Linked DNA regions of Homo sapiens. The protein of the gene in region 1 interacts with the protein of each later gene in a pairwise test. Each region holds a gene or a part of one and is shown on either strand. Other genes may lie near its edges. The genes, in order: DCTN3, NUP54, TRIM55, GSK3B and PBX2.

The links.
Region 2: the proteins of DCTN3 (region 1) and NUP54 interact in binary tests that used the Homo sapiens proteins (3 or more experiments, as listed by UniProt).
Region 3: the proteins of DCTN3 (region 1) and TRIM55 interact in a two-hybrid assay, tested with the Homo sapiens proteins (one large-scale study listed by BioGRID).
Region 4: the proteins of DCTN3 (region 1) and GSK3B interact in a two-hybrid assay, tested with the Homo sapiens proteins (one large-scale study listed by BioGRID and IntAct).
Region 5: the proteins of DCTN3 (region 1) and PBX2 interact in a two-hybrid assay, tested with the Homo sapiens proteins (one large-scale study listed by IntAct).

What each region holds. Positions count from the first base shown.
Region 1 is NC_000009.12:34,615,271-34,618,205, forward strand, and holds part of DCTN3 (dynactin subunit 3), read right to left. Parts: intron 2,702-2,935; coding exon 2,615-2,701; intron 844-2,614; coding exon 760-843; intron 1-759. UniProt on the Homo sapiens protein: Part of the dynactin complex that activates the molecular motor dynein for ultra-processive transport along microtubules. Together with dynein may be involved in spindle assembly and cytokinesis.
Region 2 is NC_000004.12:76,127,611-76,131,820, forward strand, and holds part of NUP54 (nucleoporin p54), read right to left. Parts: intron 3,675-4,210; coding exon 3,620-3,674; intron 3,140-3,619; coding exon 3,046-3,139; intron 1-3,045. UniProt on the Homo sapiens protein: Component of the nuclear pore complex, a complex required for the trafficking across the nuclear membrane.
Region 3 is NC_000008.11:66,147,097-66,151,306, reverse strand, and holds part of TRIM55 (tripartite motif-containing protein 55), read right to left. Parts: intron 1,663-4,210; coding exon 1,429-1,662; intron 1,091-1,428; coding exon 1,068-1,090; intron 966-1,067; coding exon 841-965; intron 1-840. UniProt on the Homo sapiens protein: E3 ubiquitin ligase that plays an important role in regulating cardiac development and contractility, muscle growth, metabolism, and fiber-type differentiation.
Region 4 is NC_000003.12:120,084,226-120,088,435, reverse strand, and holds part of GSK3B (glycogen synthase kinase-3 beta), read left to right. Parts: intron 1-3,787; exon of another isoform or gene 3,788-3,872; intron 3,873-4,210. UniProt on the Homo sapiens protein: Constitutively active protein kinase that acts as a negative regulator in the hormonal control of glucose homeostasis, Wnt signaling and regulation of transcription factors and microtubules, by phosphorylating and inactivating glycogen synthase (GYS1 or GYS2), EIF2B, CTNNB1/beta-catenin, APC, AXIN1, DPYSL2/CRMP2, JUN, NFATC1/NFATC, MAPT/TAU and MACF1.
Region 5 is NC_000006.12:32,184,233-32,187,912, forward strand, and holds the end of PBX2 (pre-B-cell leukemia transcription factor 2), read right to left. Parts: intron 3,551-3,680; coding exon 3,415-3,550; intron 3,164-3,414; coding exon 3,010-3,163; intron 2,670-3,009; coding exon 2,581-2,669; intron 2,459-2,580; coding exon 2,372-2,458; intron 2,243-2,371; coding exon 2,150-2,242; 3' UTR 501-2,149; downstream 1-500. UniProt on the Homo sapiens protein: Transcriptional activator that binds the sequence 5'-ATCAATCAA-3'. Activates transcription of PF4 in complex with MEIS1.

The DNA.
Region 1 (2,935 bases):
GGAAAAATACCTCCACAGACAGACAAGATGGATATCTGGATTCAATTAAAGCCACTATCTGCTTGTCAAAGTCCAGGCCCAGGGACTGCTCTCAGCAGTGCAGCAGAAAGAATTCACATACATTCATGGACCTGGCAGAGACTCTGATAGTAAAATCTGGGTTCTGCAGCACCTTGAAGAAGAGATGCTTGGGGGTAGGTAGAAGGCAGAAGGAATCCCCAGAGCTGGGGACTGCTAGAGCTTAGGCTAGTGTTCTCAGGCCCAAATTGCCTGAGGTCCTAAAACTGGGCTCTCTATCCTGGTAATTTTAATTGGTGGATGTGGCAAGTACCTCAGGGTGAGGATAAAGATAAGGAACAGGCCAGGCACAGTAGCTCACGCCTGTAATCCCAGCACTCTGAGAGGCCGAGGCAGGTGGATCACATGGGGCCAGGAGTTTGAGACCAGCCTGGACAACATGGTGAAACCCCGTCTCTACTAAAAATAGCCAGGTGTGGTGGCACACACCTGTAATCCTAGCTACTTGGGAGGCAAGGTGGGAAGTTTGTTTGAACCAGGAGGCAGCGGTTGCAGTGAGTCAAGATCATGCCACTGCACTCCAGCCTGGGTGACAGAGTACGACTCTGTCCAAAAAAAAAAAAAAAAGATAAGGAACAGACCCAACCCGAATCCACACAACCTGAAACACAGGAAAGTCTTGCCCATCCATCCACCTACCTCCCCAACCAGAGTAGTGAAGCTATAACCCCAGAGAGATACCTTTGATGTGAGCACTGTCCAGCATGGGCACCAAGGCATTCACCTGCTCCAGGAGTGCAACCTGGGAAAGGATAAACTGCTCCTCTAAAGCAAAAATGGACAAGATAGTTGCAGTGAAGCAAACCTGGGCATTGCTAATCAGCCCATGTAAGGGCCTGAGGACCTGGCAAGGGAGATGGCTAGGTCCTAGAGCTTTGGACAGTGACTCTGTCCACTGCCCCCTTCTCTAGGTGCACATTTCCATCCTGCCCCCAACTCTCCTGGATGCCTCAGGTCTGACCCATCTGAGCCTAATGAGCCTCTCAATTTCTCCAAATCCCACCTTTCTCCAAGGTTTAACTTCAAGACCTCTTCTTCTAGCCTCCTATCAACAAACTCAGGGAGCACCTCCTAGGCCACAAAATACAAAATACTTCAGACTTGGATCCCCACACCCAAGGGTCCCCAGGAAGGTCTAAAAGAGATATGTGGCAGACTACGCCAGGCAGGTTCTGCTCAGTGGCTCTCAGAGGCATAGACAATTATATGCTGGAGGAGAGCTGGGACAGTAATGGAAGAGTCCAGTGAGGAGAGCAGGATCTGGGCTAGGCCCTGTATGCACACGGGATTTCAATGCACTGAAATCCATAGAGTGGGAAGGGTATTCAAGAGAGAGGACTGTTACGTGCAAATGCTTAGAGGCAGGAATGCCTGTCAATTAGTAGAGGAGAAAGAATTCAATTAGCTGAACTGGAGTAGGGAGAGCACAGGAAACAGAGTTGGATGGGAGGGTAGACCCGGCCGACTGAAAGGCTTTGAATGGCAGACTATGGAATTAGGACTTTATCCTAGCAAGGCAGGATACACTGAGGTTCCAAAGTAGGCAAAGTGACATGTTGGGAACATGTTTTTGTGAGGGTGAGACTGAACCACATGCAGGAAGGGAAAGATTAGGGTCAAGAGTATGATTTAGGAGACTGTGCAACCATTCATATGCAAGTGGATGCACAATTCCTGAGGCAGTGCCACAGGGAGGGATGGAGAGGCTGGACTCAAGAGTCAGTGCAGGAGAATATCTAAACTTGGTGCTTGAGCGATGGCAATTGACCAAGAGCCCTTTGGGAACTCTGACAGCCCTTTTAGCAGGAGTGGCCCATCCTTACCCAGTCCTCAGTGCTGCATTGCACTGATCAGTCTCCTGGGAGACTGATCTCCCATCTGGGTTATAAGCTCAGGTCCCTGAAGCAGGGACCCTGTCTCCCCTAGCTCTGGCTGTGCCCATGAGGGCAGGGACTTTCTGGTTCACCACTGTATGCTTCCTCACTTAGGAAAGAACCTGGATCAGAGTAGATGATCATTATACATCTTTTGGATGAATAACGAAGCTCAAAAAACCCTAGCTTATAGAATGGCTGACTGATTAGCAGACATTGCCAAGGCAATAGTTCCTGCCTAGAACTCTGACACTGCAGAGCTTTCTCACATGAAAGAAAGATGTTGAAACTCATGCCAATACTCTCTCTGTTCTTTAATGGCAATGCTCTCTGCCCCTACCCTTTCCTAGAAGCTCCTCTGTCTAGTGAGCAGAAGTGAGGAAGGTTCTGAAGGAAAATCCAAGAGGCAAACTATTGATAGAACACTGGACTAGCTCCCACTGTGGCTGGCACCATGGCCTGCAGCTGGTGCAGAGGTATACTGTACTCAATGTCTACTAGAGGATCCATAGGATCCTCAACCCAGAACCAGGCCACAATTCCAGAGAGCAGCATCCAGGGCTTGTATCCACCAGAAGACTGGATGGAGAGGCCATCTCTGTGCTTAACCTCCCCGACGACCCACATCCTCAGATGCATGTACACATGTAGTCCAGCATTACCTGCTAGGATGAATTGCAGCTTAGAGGCATCAGGTATGGCAATGCGGTCGATGTACTCAGGATCCAGGTACTTGATCAGATCTTCAACTAGAAAAGTAGCAAGATGGAAAATGGAATAGGGTTGGGCAGTAGAGCTCTGCCTTATGAAGGATGTTTGACAAGTGGTCAGCCTTGAGGAGAGCCTTCAATGAGGAGCTGATACCCAACAGTGCCACATGAGCAGGGCTCCACCAGGCTCCCTATCCCCACTTCCCTATCTCTCCACTCTCTTCTCTTGAAGTCTCTTCTGACATCAAGCTTCAGAGCTGAAAACACAATTGC
Region 2 (4,210 bases), on another chromosome or scaffold:
TTTAAGCAAATTCCCAAAAAGAAAATACAAGGCAAACATTTAATGGATATCATTACATTAAAATTAAGGATTTCTCTTCAACTACAGACACCAAAGACAGAATTAACAAAGAGATGAGAAACTAGAAGATATTTACAACGTTATAAACAGAGACTACAATCTAGAGTAAATGATTACTGAAGTTCAATAAAGAAAAAATAGGAAGCCCAGTGGAAACACTGGCCAAAGATATGAATGATTTCAGTTCTGGACAAGATGGACTAAGCATATACAACCCCAATCTCTCCCATTTAATATAGCTATAAAACTTGGATGGAATACACGGGGCAGCTATTTGGGAACTCTGGCAGGAAGATCAGGTAAGATAGGAATTTAAAGTACCAATAAACTTGTGGTGAGTTTACCCATTTTTCCCCTCAGGCGTCCCTAGTCTGGTTTCAACCCAGCCTCAAACCTGGAAATGAGCATAAATGCTGAAAGGGAGCTCCAAGGGAAGTCTGCTAGTTATAGTGGGAGGAGATACATCGTATTACCTAGAGAAAGGTTTCTCAACTTCAGCACTATTAATCTTGGGTAATTCCTTGTTGTGGGAGTACTGTTCTGTACACTGCAGAATGTGTGCAGCATCTGGGCCTCTACACATTAGACGCCTGTAGTACTCCCCAACCAAGAGTCTCCAGACATTGCCAAATGTGCTCTGGGAGACAAAATCACCACCACCACCACAAGCCACTACTAAGAAGTACTGCTCTAAGACTTGAAATAATAGATTAAAAGGAAATGCTGAAAAAAAAAAAAAAGTCCAAATAACTCAAAAGAAAGCAGAAAAGTAGAAACAGGAATGAAAAACAGAGGCTACAAACACAAAACAAATAAATGGTAGGACTAAATCCAAACTTTTTGCTGTCTACAAGAATCTCGCTTCAAATATAACAATATAGGTAGGTTAAAAGCAAAAAGATGGACAAAGGTATGCCATACAAACACTTTTTATCAAAAGAAAGGTAGCGTGGCTATGTTAACACCAGACAAAGACTTCTGAGTGTCTTGAGTAAGTGTCCATGAACAGATGAATGGATAAAGAAAACATGGTGTGTATGTGTACACATATATACACACACAATAGAATACTATTTAATCATGAAAAAGAATGAAGTGCTACCATTTGCAGCAACATAGATGAACTTGGAAGACATTTTGTTAAGTGAAATAAGCCACGTGCAGAAAGATAAATTCTGCATGTTCTCACTCATATGTGGAAGCTAAAAAAAGTTGATTTAGTAGAAGAAAAGAGTAGAATAGTGGCTACTAGAGGTGGAGAAAGAGTAGGAGTAGGGAACTGCCAAAGGTTGCTTAACAGATACAAAAGTACAGCTGGATAGGAGGATTAAGTTCCAGTGTTCTATAGCACTATAGGTAACTATAATTCACAACCATTTATTGTGTTTCAAATAGCTATAGGAGTGAATTTCCCATGATACCAACAAATGATAAATGTATGGGGTAATGGATATGCTAATTACTTTATTTGATCATTACACACTATATCCATGTATTGAATTATCACACTATGCCCCATAAATATGTAGTTATGTATCGATTAAAAACAATAAAAGAAAAGGCCATTAGAGAAGATTTAAAACTTACCGAGGATTAAGAGGGATATGATATAATAATAAAAGGTAAATTTGCCAAGAAAACACAACAATCCTATATAACAACAGCCCTTCAAACTATTAATACATGAAGCAAAAACTGAGAAATGAAAGGAGAAAAACACAAATCCGTAAGTGTTGCTGTAGATTTCAAATCTCTTCTCAAACTAGCAGACAGAAAAAACAACAAGAATACAGAACTGAGCAATACTATCAACCAACTGGATCTCACTGACATTAATAGAAAACTTCACCCAAGGACTGCAGAATACACATTATTTTCATAGGCTCCTGGGTTATAAAACCTCAGCAAAGTTGGCCGGGCGCAGTGGCTCACGCCTGTAACCCTAGCACTTTCGGGAGGCCGAGATGGGTGGATCACGAGGTCAGGAGATCGAGACCATCCTGGTTAACACGGTGAAACCCCGTCTCTACTAAAAATACAAAAAATTAGCCGGGCGTGGTGGCAGGCGCCTGTAGTCCCAGCTACTCCGGAGGCTGAGGAAGGAGAATGGCGTGAACTCAGGAGGTGGAGCTTGCAGCGAGCCTAGATCGCGCCACTGTGCTCCAGCCTGGGCGACAGAGCGAGAGACGTCTCAAAAAAAAAAAAAAAAAAAAAAAAACCTTAGCAAAGTTAAAAGAATTGAAATCATAGAAATTTCTCTGACCTTTAAGAATCTTTAAGTATTTAATTATGAAAGTTTTTTTTTTTTTTTTTTTTTTTTTTTTTTTTTTTGAGGAGTCTCACTCTGTCGCCCAGGCTGGAGTGCAGTGGCACGATTTCTGTTCACTGCAACCTCTGCCTCCCGGGTTCAAACAATTCTCATGCCTCAGCCTCCCAAGTTGCTGGCATTACAGGCGTGCACCACGACACCCAGCTAATTTTTGAATTTTTTAGTACAGACCAGGTTTTGCCAAGTCGGCCAGGCTTGTCTTGAACTCCTGATCTCAAGTGATCCACCCACCCTGGTCTCCTAAAAAAGTCTACTTTATGAAATAAAATATTAAGTATATTTAAGCATTAATTTTATCAACATACAATAATATACCAAGACAATTATATGTCAACATAAAATAATCATTACTATAACCTTCATTTTCATAAGGCCCCATAAATAATAATATGCAATCCCTGGCTGAAACTGGAAATGACAGTCTAATTAATCCACTAAGACAAGAATTCTAAATTCATTATTATATCAAATCAGATTCATGTGATTTGGGGACTTCTATCATAAAGAAGGTAGTTGTATAAAACTATTAAATTGCAGTGTATGCTACATTGTTTCCTGATTAAGATAAAACAGTAGCACATATACTAAAAAGAATTAAATGTCTATAATCCCTTTCCCTACTTCCAGGGCCAGGGAATAAAAAGCTAAATGCTTACATCTAATCTGGTTTGATGCTGCTTAGTCATCTGATCTTGAACCTTCAGTCTTCGGAGAAGTTCCTTAAAACCCACCATTGGTACAGGAATTAACCTGAAGAAACGCAGTGAACAATTTTCAGACCTTAAGCCTATTACTACAAAATACAAGAAGTGAAGGTTTTAGTAACACTCATGTAATTTTACATCAACTTTCTAGGGCTCTAAGGCAGATCTATGACTATGAGATAACCATGTTATACCAAAGAGATTTTATTCAACCTCCCTATTTTACAAATGAGGAAATACAGTTCAGTCAAAACATTACATTATTAAATGAAAACGCAAATAGAATTTTCCGCTCCTAGTTAGTTCTCACTATGCTATGCTGCCTTACCATAATCTTTTTTTTTCTTATTTTTTTCTTTTTGTTTTGGCTGAAGCTTTAGCTGGACAATAATCAATATTTTTTAAAGGCCAGGAAAATGAAAATAAACTTGTCTCATATGTAAGAATTATAATTAATAGCTCCCATGTTTGCTTTCCTAGTAGCAAATATTAGTTCTTAAATGAAACAAGATGAAGACATACTTACTTTTCAGAATCAGGGTTATCTACCTTGGCCTGTTCCCAGATAATAGGATCAACACCTACCACAAATAAAAAATATTTTTTCTAAAACAATTTTCTATTTTTATAATATGTGTATGACAAAGGCTTTCCTAAAGCAAGACCCTATACCTAGAAGCTATAATGAAAAGTGACTGTCAAATATAATCATGGTAAAAATACAAATTTTTGCAGAATAAATAAAGTTCAAAAAAAGCACAGATTGAAAGGAACTATCTATAACCTATAGGATAATAGATTAACCTCCAGAATATAGAAAGAGTTCCTATACATCAAAAAGGAAGACAAAAAAATCTAGAAAATGGGCAAAGGACACAAATAGGTAACTCACAAAAAATATAAATGTAGCTAATAAACATATTAAAAATAAGTATTAATTTTTAAATTAATTATTTTGCCATCAGTGGCCAGAAAAAATAACATTCCTGTTATGAATATAAACGGTAGAACTTTCCCTGGAGGGCAATTTGGCAATATCTAACATACATAATATTGACTCAAAAATTTCATTACCAGAGATCTATTCTAAAGAAATATATACCAATGTGTTCTAAGA
Region 3 (4,210 bases), on another chromosome or scaffold:
CAGAAATGGGACTTCTGGGCCAAAAGGTAGGAATGTGGTTATAGCTCAGGGAGTATAACTAGTCACACAGACCCAGGTTTATGTTCAGGTTGTGACTTATTCTATGAGTTGTTACTATTCTTGTCCTCTAAATTTTGATTAAGTTGATGTGCTGCAATATCTAACCCACATGCCTCCTATGTATTGTTTTTATCTCATCTTTAACCTTGCTCCTGCTGACACTTTACATTATTTTGGCTAACACTGTGCATAGGATTGAAGTTGAGATATCATCATTATCAATTATGAAGCATTTGCTTATCAAGAGTCAAATACCCAACCTGACATTAAAATAGGCACCAGGCCGGGCATGGTGGCTCACTTCTGTAATCCCAGCACTTTGGGAGGCCAAGGCAGGTGGATCACCTGAGGTCAGAAGTTCGAGACCAGCCTGGCCAACATGGCGAAACCCTACCTCTCTAATAATTCAAAAATTAGCCGGGTGTGGTGGCAGGTGCCTGTAATCCCAGCTACTCAGGAGGCTGAGGCGGGAGAATCGCTTGAACCCAGGAGGTGGAGGTTCCAGTGAGCCAAGATCGTGCCATTGCACTCTAGGCTGGGCAACAGAGTGAGAGTCCATCAAAAAAAAAAAAAGGCACCATATGTGCAAAGCTAAATAAACACTGTCAACAAACGATGTGATCCTGTAATGAAATAGAGCTTCACATTGGATATGATCCTTGTAAAGTTGTCGACATTGATTCTGGAGGTGATTCTGAATCCCCGCTTTCCTCCCACCCAACTCTTCGGCAGCTTTCACACACCTGCAACTTCGGCCAAATGGTCAAAAGAATAACAAACCTCTGTAAAAGTCAATTTCACGTATTATCTTTTCTTCTCTATTGAGGTTGACTGTGAAGTGGTTCATGTTCTCATAGCCATGTTCTATTTTCTCCATCTGAAATGCCTTTGATGCTTCCGAGATTCTGCAACAAAGACAAGTTGCCACTTTCTGTCACTGTTGAAAATTGGATAGCCTTGGGTAAAGGTGAAAATATGCATTTTTACATAAAATAAAAAGTTCTTACTTTTTTAGCAGGGTTTTGGCATTCTGTGAAAGCAAACAAAAGATAGTCTTACTTAAATTATTTCCACAAAAGACAGTGGTAAGACAATTATTTCCTTTGTTGACTCTGAGAATCTCATAGCTTAGTTTCTAAATGTCATAAATAACTGCTGTCTTATAACAGAACCCTATTAGATTTAAGCAGTATCATAGACATGCTATTTAAGTTGTTTAAATAGATTAATATATAAGCACATGGGGTTTATATTTTAGTTGGTAAAATAAATAAAAACTGAAATGTACATAAAATAATAAAAATGTGATAACTAATTTTCCAACACCCACCTTTTGGGTTGTTACTTTGGTGCCAAAAAGAGACTTACCTGCAGAAACACTGCCATTTCTGGCTCATCCATAAACTGAATTCCTGACTCAACCAACTTTGAGACGTTCTCCAAATGATCAGAATACTTTTTGATCAGAGCACGGACATGTTCCAGTTTCTCCTCTTGGGTTCGGGTAATGACTTGGGTCATTTCATTCTTCCTCTCCTCCAAAATGCCATACAGGTAATCAAACTTCTCACAAAGCTCTTGTTTCTGTTTTCTGCAACATTCCTATTAGTTGGGTTAGCTAATGTTAGAAAGTATTTGAAACAAAGTCGATTTGGAGAAATCACCTAGTTATCCTGGGAAAGAAGAACATTTACTTATGTAGGATATTTTTTTCTTTTCCCTGAAGATGTCTATTTAGGTATGGATACCCACTATGTTGGTGCTTTGGAAATTCCATTTTTAACAAATTTGATATTTAGACTATCTAAAACTCAATTAAATTGGCTACATGAATCAATGGTTTTTCAATCTTCTGTTCTTTATAAATGGAGAATTTCATAGAAATAAAGAATGATTTTCTTTTATATTATATTTGGGTTACATAGGTTATAGGTTATATTTTGCTTTGGAGTGTGTGTGCATGTGTGTGCATGCAAGGAAAATACTATGATACTTCCTGGTTTGTACCTTAAAGTCTCTGCTCCACCTATACCAATATTGTCCTAGTTTCAGTCCTCCTATATAGAATTTGTAGCTTCCCAAAGGCCTCTGCAGCTAGGATTCCCTCCTCCCAGTCAACTTACACACTGCAACCAAGTTAATTTTCTCAGAGTACAGTTCTAATCATGTTTTTTTGTTCTTTCCTTTCTTTCTTCTTTGAGACAGAGTCTAGCTCTGTTGCCCACGCTAGAGTACAGTGGTGTGATCTCGGCTCATTGCAACCTCCGCCTCCCAGGTTCAGGCAATTCTCCTGCCTCAGCATCCCAAGTAGCTAGAATTACAGGCACCTGCCACCACACCCAGCTAATTTTTGAATTTTTAGTAGAGATGGGGTTTCACCACATTGGCCAGGCCGGTCTTGAACTCCTGACCTACAGTGATCCGCCCACCTCAGCCTCCCAAAGTGCTGGGATTACAGGCGTGAGCCACCGTGCCCGGCCTTAATCATGTTTTTTTCTATGATGACTCCCTATTACACAAAGAATAACACTTAAACTTCCTAACTAGCTTTCAAGACCCCTCCATGATCTGGTTCCAATTTCTCTCATAACATTCTACTATCCTCCATTGTATACCCTGAATTCCAGCAAAAATAAACCACTCACTTTCTTTGTTCATGCTTTCCCTTCTGTCTACAGTGTTCTTCCCCAAGTCACCACTGCAAACTCTATGCAATTTCAAAGACATTGTCAGACTACCACTTCTTCCATAAAGTGTCCCTTGATGTTTATGGCTGAATGCAACTTTTAACTTTCTGAAATCTCATAATAGTTACCATTGATAGCATATATCTGTATCTACCAGATCCTCTATTTATCCAATACTGCCTAAGAATGGGTAATACTGTATCTGGTCTATGCTCTTGGAGAGAAAGGCTGTGTTGGAAGTCTGGCTTGCACATTTGTGTTGTGTGGCTGAAGTATCTCCAGTACCATCCAGATCCCTTTAGTCTGGGCCCATCTTTAAATCATAATTAATTATCCAGTTCATCTAGTCATTGGCCTTTTGGTTTTTCAATCCCTGGTAAGCTTGGTGTGCATGTATGCCAATCTCCTTGGACTTGACCATCTCTGGGTCCAGGACCTTTATAGCTGAGAGCAGGTTGTGAGCCATAGTGATCTAACCTAGCTCTCCCGCACAGTGAGAGCTTCTTGGGAATCCAGCAAATTTATTTCTGACATCTCTGACCATTCTATACCCTTTATTACATATTCTTTCATTTTGGTAAACATTGAAGTCTTTTATGTCATGTATTGCTTTCTTCCTTTATGTGAATTTCTTAAATATCCAAAGTATATTTTTTTTGAGGGTAGAATCTGGGTCTGCCTAGGACACAGAGCACCTTGGATAGTAGCTGTTCACTAAATATCTGTTGAATAGATTTTGTGGTTTTTTTTTTTTTTTTTTTTTTTGAGATGGAGTCATGCTCTGTCACCCACGCTGGAGTGCAATGGCGCGATCTCGGCTCACTGCAAGCTCCACCTCCCAGGTTCAAGTGATTCTCCTGCCTCAGGCTCCTGAGTAGCTGGGATTACAGGCACATGCCACCTTGCCCGGCTAATTTTTGTATTTTTAGTAAAGAAGGAGTTTCACCATATTGGTCAGGCTGATCTCAAACTCCTGACCTCATGATCCACCCGCCTCGGCCTCCCAAAGTGCTGGGATTACAGGCGTGAGCCACCAATCCTGGCGGAATAGATTTTTTTTTTAATGTGTTTCATTTCCTCTCAATTTCTCTACTATTCTCAGTATGGAGTCAGGGAGAATGACCTAAACCAAATTGTTGATTATGAAGATACTCTGCAAATGTGCAAGAAATACATCCCTTACTCCATTGCCTTCCTTGGAACAGTCAATTCTCATCACAGTTCCCAACCAAATTATAATGCATGGAGATCCAGTGGTGCCAACTATTTTAATAGTAAATGCCTTACCACTGTCATCCACCCATTCATTCATGGATTTAACAAACAATGCATGTCATTTGTGTCAAGACTCTGGGGATCCAAAAAAGAATTAACATAGTTCCTATTCTCAAGGAGCTCACAGTTCACTGAGAAAGACTATAGACCAATAATGTAATTCAATATGGTAGGCTGAATAATGTAAA
Region 4 (4,210 bases), on another chromosome or scaffold:
AAAACCTATGTGAATAGAACAGCAAGGAAAAACTGAGTAGAGTTAAAGAAGTTTGTTTTCCCTGAGATTTTCTGCCTTTAAATTTATATAAAAAAGGAATATTCCATTTTACGTTATTGAGTTTTCTATTTTTTTAAATGAGCTAATACTCAGTACATAATGGACATTTTTAGTAAATTATTCCAATATACTTGTGTCTGTAATGCATTTGATGTGGTATAAGATTTAGAAACACAATTTAGTTCGGCTGGCACGGTGGCTCACGCCTGTAATCCCAGCACTTTGGGAGGCCGAGGCGGGTGGATCACGAGGTCAGGAGATCAAGACCATCCTGGCCAACGTGGGGAAACCCCGTCTCTACTAAAAATACAAAAATTAGCGGGGGCGTGGTGGTGTGCGTCTGTAGTCCCAGCTACTCAGGAGGCTGAGGCAGGAGAATCGTTTGAACCCATGAGGCGGAGATTGCAGTGAGCTGAGATCGTGCCACTGCACTCCAGCCTGGGCGACAGAGAGAGACTCTGTCTCAAAAAAAAAACAAAACAAAAGACAATTTAGTCGATTTGGGTTCTTAGTTTATAATCCCCCTTACCATTTTTGCTTATATTTTGGGAAGAGAGGTCAACTTCCAAACAATGTGCAGGTTCCAATTTTATAAGTGATTAAATCTTATATTTTTTGTATTGAATAGTTTTCTTAGCATGTTTGGTTTGATCACTTGAAGTAATGATGTATTTGTCTTGAAACTAGTTTTGTCAAACCAACTTTTTATTTCCAGAGTACCATGGTTAACAACAGCACAAAGCCAAGTCCTTAACGTGTTCCCTTAATAACATGGTCTAAGGTTAATTTCTTGATTCTTATTTCAAATCAATTCAGTAATAAAAAGTACACTTTTTTTTTTTTTGAGATGGAGTCTCGCACTGTTTCCTGGGCTGGAGTGCCATGGCGTGATCTGGGCTTACTGCAACCTCTGCCACCCAGGTTCAAGCGATTTTCCTGCCTCAGCCTCCCAAGTAGTTGGGATTACAGGTGCCTGCCACCACACCTGGCTAATTTTTTGTATTTTTAGTAGAGACGGAGTTTCACTGTGTTGGCCAGGCTGGTCTCAAAATCCTGACCTTGTGATCTTCCCACCTCGGCCTCCCAAAGTGCTGGGATTACAGGCGTGAACCACCACATGTGGCCGAACTAAATTGTGTTTCTAATTTAGTTTTCCTGAAGAATAACAGCTATGCATCAATGTGGAATTGTGTTATTTGGAATCTCACCTTATTGGAATTGGCTGGTAATTGACAGTAAACCAGAAGTGCTCCTGAGCAGCTAATATCTGCAGACAAATGGAGTGTAAACTTTGCTCATAGGTTAGTTTTCAGGCTTTTATTAACGGTTCCTTGTTATTATTTAACATATAGTTGTAATTCATTGAGTTGTCTGGGTTTTTTTGAAATCACAGATCAGGGGAATGGATAGGTACTGATTAAGCATTATGCTACTGAAAAGAATGGATGATTAGGGGAAACAAGCATATTGGGATTACTTAGTGTATGTAGGGTATGTAGGTTCATATAGTTCCAGGGTAAATCATTCTGATAATTGTTGAAAATGTTCACCCAGAGAAATTTTTTTTTTTTTTTGGAGACAGGGTCTCGCTGTGTTGCCTATGCCTAGCCTGGAGTGCAGTGGCACAGTCTTGGCTCACTGCAGCCTCTGCCTCCTGGGCTCGGGTGATCTTTTAACCTCAACCTCTGGAGTAACTGGGACTATAGGCATGCGCCAACATGCCTGGCTAGTTTTTGTAGTTTTTATAGAGAGGGGGTTTCGCCATCTTGCCCAGGCTGGTCTTGAACTCCTGGAATCAAGCAATCCTGCCTCAGCCTCCCACAGTGCTGGGATTACAGTCATGAGCCACTGCACCCATCTGAGAATATTAATTCTCTTTTAAAGAGGCAGGAGGCAGAAAAATCTCTTGTGGAAACCTGGGCTTCTGCATAAACTACATAAAATATCTGTAATTTGTTGATCACTGAAGTGATGAAGAGAACTGGGTCACCTCTGTCTGATTCACCATCTTCTAGTTGGATTTCAGCAGTATGGATAAAGGTACTAAAGTCTTTAGTGTGCTAGCCCAGGGTATTGTTTCCAACTCTTTCTTCCATTGTCCATCTACATTTATTAACTCAGCAGCAGAGTTTTATCTGATTTAAGATTTGTTGTCTTACTATTTCTGTTTTTTTTTTTTTCCTCCTTAGTATATATGGAATTGCTGCTTGGATTTTGGCTGGCTTGTACCTTTTGTTTGTGGACTGCTTAGAAGGCACTGCATGGAGTCATTTAAGCTTTCTTATGAATTATGAATAGCTATGTAGAGAGGAACTTTTCTAGATACATTTATGGCCTATGAGAATTGAAAAGCTGGGTATCTTAATTGTTAGGCTGAAGAAAAAGGGTGATAGTGGCAAAGTAGTTTTTCTTTTGGAGGTCTGAGAAATTCTTAGGGGCTTAATTGGCTAATATAACTAGAAAGGTTGGGTGATTTAGGTTTTTTTCCAAGGAAAGGTATCTTATTTAAATGCAACACTGTCTGCTTCCTGTTATTTTATAAAATTAGTTAATACTTTTTTTTTTTTCTCAAGACGGAATGTCACTGTGTCGCCCAGGCTGGGGTGCAGTGGCACAATCTTGGCTCACTGCAACCGCCACCTCGAGGCCTGGTTCAAGGAATTCCCCTGCCTCAGCCTCCTGAGTAGCTGGGATTACAGGCATATGCCACCATTCCCCGCTAATTTTTTTGTATTTGTAGTAGAGATGGGGTTTCACCATGTTGGCCAGACTAGTCCTGAACTCCTGACCTCAGGCAATCTGCTGGCCTCAGCCTCGCAAAGTACAGCAAAATCAGTTAATATTTTTAATTGATTAACACTTTCTTCATGACCTGTGTTGAAGTTATTGAGTTGAGTCAATTGAATTTCTAATGCTAGATTTTGAGTATGTGGTGTGAGCACCTGAAGAGTTGGAGGTACTGGAATTATGTCTGACATCAGACTGATAGTATTTGCAGGGACATTTGCCCTAGTGGAATTCAGGGTTTTCACATTCTATACATTACTTAAATTATGAAGGAAAGGGGGAAGCTTTGAGTTGGTAGACTTTTAATAATAAGATATAATTACATGTATATAGAAGAGCAACGTACTGTATATCATATTCTCATAATATATGGTAATAACGGCAGTAATTATTGAGTGCGGTGTGCCAGATAATTGCATGTTTTATTTACCTATTTTGCTTTAAATTTTAAAAAATGTAATTTACTCACATGGTTCAAAATTTTAAAGATATTCAGTGAAGTCTTCTCTCCTGCTCTGCAACAACCAGTTCTCTTTCCTGGAGACCACTGGCATTACAATTTCTTATGTGTCCTTTCATAGGTATTCTGAATCTTTACGGATTAATGATTTCTATAGTAGACTTGCATTTTGTGTATACATACATAAATTAACAATAGCTTTAGCAGAAGTGTTAGAATTAAAACAAATTTAAATCAGTAACTCTAGAAAATTGCTATTTTTTAACCTATTAAATTAGTAAATACTTATTTCTCTAAATATAAGTTAGTTGGAGAATAAGTGCAAAGATGACAGAGCTCCTCTCGTGGCAATTAGAGGTAAAATGTTAATAGTCTTAACCAATGAACAATTAATAGCACATTTAAAATAGATGTTTATTTCATAATAAAAAGACAGGATAATTTTTTAACTTTCTATTTTTCTAACATCTTAGATGAGAAAACCTGTTCTCTTGAGAGATCAGAGGCGCAGAGTGCGTCAGTGTCAATGAAGCCTGTGCCTTTTACTTCTTTAAGAGCGTACGGTTTCATTCTGCTCCTAAATCAAGCACCCCTTAGTTGTTGAATAAAAATTACTTTTATAAAGGAATATATGATTTAAAGAAATCAAATAGTGCAGAAGGGCTTATGATGGAAAGTAATCTTCTGTCCTCCAGTCCTACTTCTTAGAAGCAACATTGGCTATGACAGCTGTTTCCTCTAGTAGTTTTTGTCATATTTTTAATTATATGCTTTTTATCTATTTCTTAAAATTAATTTTTTTGTCTTATTGTGGTAGACATCATTTATTGTCATGCCCATCTCCCTTTTGCTTTCATACTGATATAATTATGCCACTATTTAAAAACTATTATTTATTTAAAT
Region 5 (3,680 bases), on another chromosome or scaffold:
TCCAGGGTCCTGGCTCTGTCTGCCCCTCTCCCTGCTGTGGCCTCCGCCCTAGGTGGGGCCTGCACCCTCTCTCCAGCCCCCATCTTTCAGTCGTCTTGTCACAGGGAATGCTAGGAATTCATGCCTTTGGGACAAGAGTCCTTCAGGTACTAGAGAAATAATTATCACCCCACCCCTGGGTACTACCAGCCTCTGGGTACAGTCACTTCCCTGGGGGATGGGGAGTGTACCCTCTAGGGTCTCATTCCCTCAGAGCCCCCGATCCTATTTATTCCATCAGTCCATCAGGGCTGCCTGGTGACCCACTGGAGCCCCATCTTGATTGCGCAAAGTTGCATCAATAGGGTTCAGGCCAGACTGTTGTCTGCAAGGGTGCAATTGGGCCTGCATCATGAAGGCAAGGCTGGGGAACAGGAGAGAAACCTGTTTGGAACTTCGTGAAAGAAAATCATTTTTTTTCTGGGGTTTCTCATGTTTTTTGAAAAAAATTCTCAACTAAACCCAGGGAAAAAAGAAATTTCTTTATTTAAAACTGCATTTTGTTTTTTTTCTGTGAAACTACACAAGTTTACAAGTGAGGAGAGAACTGCCCCCGGCCCATGCCTCCCACCCCCCCACCCATCACACTTCCAACCTGTCCCCAGTCCTGCCCGGATCTTTAATGGGAGGGGTTCCCCACTCTGACAGTCTTGTAAAATCCTGAGAATGTCTGAGGGGATCAGATGGTAGCTAGTTCAGGGCTGAGGATGGGACAGTGTTGATGTTACTTTTCCCCCACATCTGGCTTTTTGCAACCTCCTCCCTCTCCCTACCCCTTGATTTTGGTGTGACAAAAAGATACCTCATTTATGGGGAAATTGAGGAAGATACATATACAAGCACCCCAACCCATATTTAACATATTTGGCAATAACTCCCTTCCCATTCTTCCCCCTCCAATTTTCAAATAGTAGTTTTTTAAAAAATTAAAGACATGTCACTCACAGGGGAAGATGGCATCTTCAATTTCCTCAAAATTACTGAGTCCAGCCCTGCCCAAGGGTTGTGGGAAGAAGGGGGATGAGAGGCCAGCAGGGCAAGCCCTTCACTGCCTCCACATCAAATGCGGCAGAAACCTGCCTGCATGAACAAAGAACACCTAAGGGATTTTAGGGGGCAAAGCTTGGTGCCCTGTAAAATTTACTTCCTGATGGACAGGCCTGGAGCCAGGGGGGCCTCTTTACCAGTTCTGTTTGTCCCCCTTTCTCTTACCAGAACCCCTTTGGCTATCACCCCTAATATGGGAAAGTAAGAAATAAAAAAAAAAAAAGACAAGAAATCAACATATTTATAAAAAAAAAAACAAGCTACTTCCCCAAACTAAATTAAAAATTAAGAACCACCACCACCACCACCACCAACAACAACAAAAACAACAACAACAACAAAAAAAACAGATGGATCCCAGGGTTTCTTTTTCTTTCTTTAAAAAAAAAAAAGTTCAACCCCAAAGCCCAGTCAATAATTCCCTAAAGTAGCAGAAACTCCCTCCGAGGTAGATATCTGAGTCAGACACTCTCGTCCACCGAGCGATTCTATTGGTTTAAGATGAGCTGCGTATGAGGTAAGTAAGCCGTCCGGAGGGGCGGGGGTGGGGATGCATGGGGGCGTGGCCCATGTCCTCTGTCCAGAAGTCATGTCCCCATTTTTGGCATCTCTGATTGGGCAGGGCTGGCGTCTCCACAGATTCCAGAGCATACAAGTGGGGTGGGGAAGGGAAAGTGGGGGAGCCCAGGAGAGAAACAGAATAGTTGCAAGTGGGAGTATGTGTGTGTGAGGTGTGGGAGAGGGAGAGAGAAAGACAGAGGAGAAAAAGGGGTCTGAGAAATAGGTTTCTCGGTATGTGTATGTTTCTGTGTAAGAAAGAAAGCGAGAGAGGAAAAAGATGGAAAAAAGGGAGAGACAGACCCCACACTCCCCTTAGAGGCCCCATTCTTCCTGCCATGTAATTAGCACCCCCAGCACAGAGAGTCTCGTTAGGGAGGGGATGACCCCATTGGCCCTTCTCTGTCTTGTGCTTCTCCTGTATTGGGGTTTGTCCTCTGGAAGCCTGCGTCCTCTTCAAGTCGCCTTGTGAGAGCCCCCACCCCTGTGACCCTGAGGGGCAAGATCAGTTGGAGGTATCAGAGTGAACACTCCCTGGTCCCTCCGTTGGGGATGTCACTGAAGAGGGGGTCACAGCCTCTTGCCAGCTGCCATTTGCCTGAAAGGAGAGACAGAGTACAGAAAACAGAGAAAGCCCTGGGAACCCTGTGTGGGCACAACATTACTAGGGAAAATGCCCCTCTGTCCTGTGAGAACTGGACAGAGAGGAGCTTCAGGATCCACTCACCCTCATTTCCCGTGGGCTGTACATCTGGCCTCCCCCGAGGTTATCCCCATAGCCCCCTGGCCCCATCGAGTGTCGGAGTGATTCCACCTGCAGGCAGCAGAGGAAGGTATGACAGTGAAGAGAAGCCTCAGAGGAAAGAGGTCTTGTATCCTAAAGTAGAGGAAATGGAGTTGGGGAAAGCCCTATTCGAGAGGAGATGGGCATCTGACCTGGGAAGCAGAATAGGAATCTCCGTTGAGCCCAGGCATCCCCAGAAACATGTCTCCAGATCCTGAGAGATTGAAAGAGCCGCCAGAGCCTTGTGGGGGCAGAGAGGGAAGAGTGTAATAGAGCCCGTGATGGTAGAGGATGAACCACAACTCTCAACTCTTGTGGGGACATGCTACTATACTCCAATTATCCACAAAATAACATTCCAACACACAGAAAGAGCAGGCTGTTCCTTGGCCACCCGTGGGAAGAAAGGCAGAACTAAGATCACTGGAATGGCCTCTGTCCCCTGACATCTCCAGCCTATCTCAGCTCGGTCCCTCTCACCCCAAAAGGCCCCCTCTCTGCTATGATCCTGCCTAGATAGGAAGTGGGAACAAAAGCAGGAAGTGTGCAAAACAGTCAGCCGGGGTGACAGTGGGATCCACCTGCAGAGGAAGGGGGTGTCGGGGAGCTGGTGCGGCTGTGGCCCCCCTGGGTGACTGACACGGCGGTCTTGACAGCATAGATGTTTGCCTCCTCTTGGAACTTTCCGATGTTTTTCTTATAGCGAATCCTCTTGTTGCCAAACCAGTTGGAGACCTGTGGGGCAGAAAGGAGGGTCAGGTAGAAACATTTGCCTCTGAAGTCCTTCACTGAATAAGATGTGAGTGACAGCATTTTTTTTTTTTTTGCTTCCTGGTCTCACTATGCTGTTGCCCAGGCTGGTCTCCAATTCAAGTGATCCTCCCACTTCAGCCTCCCTAGTAGCTGGGATTACAGGAACACACCACTGCACCTAGCTGAGATGCGTGCACTTTGCCTGACAACTCCTCCCGCAACCTCCATAATACCTGAGACACGGTGATGCCACACTTCTTGGCAAGCTCCTCCTTGGCCTCCTCACTAGGATATGGGTTACTCAGGTGGGAGTAGAAATACTCATTTAGGACCTCAGTGGCCTGTTTGCTGAAGTTACGGCGCTTTCGTCTACAGAGGAGGGAGAAGAGCAGTGAGGAGGATGTTGATGTCCTGGCAGGGCTGTCACATGGCATGACCCCAGAGTCACCATTGTCATGGAGTACCATGTTGTGCAGCATGGCAGCTCAGGGTCTTGGAG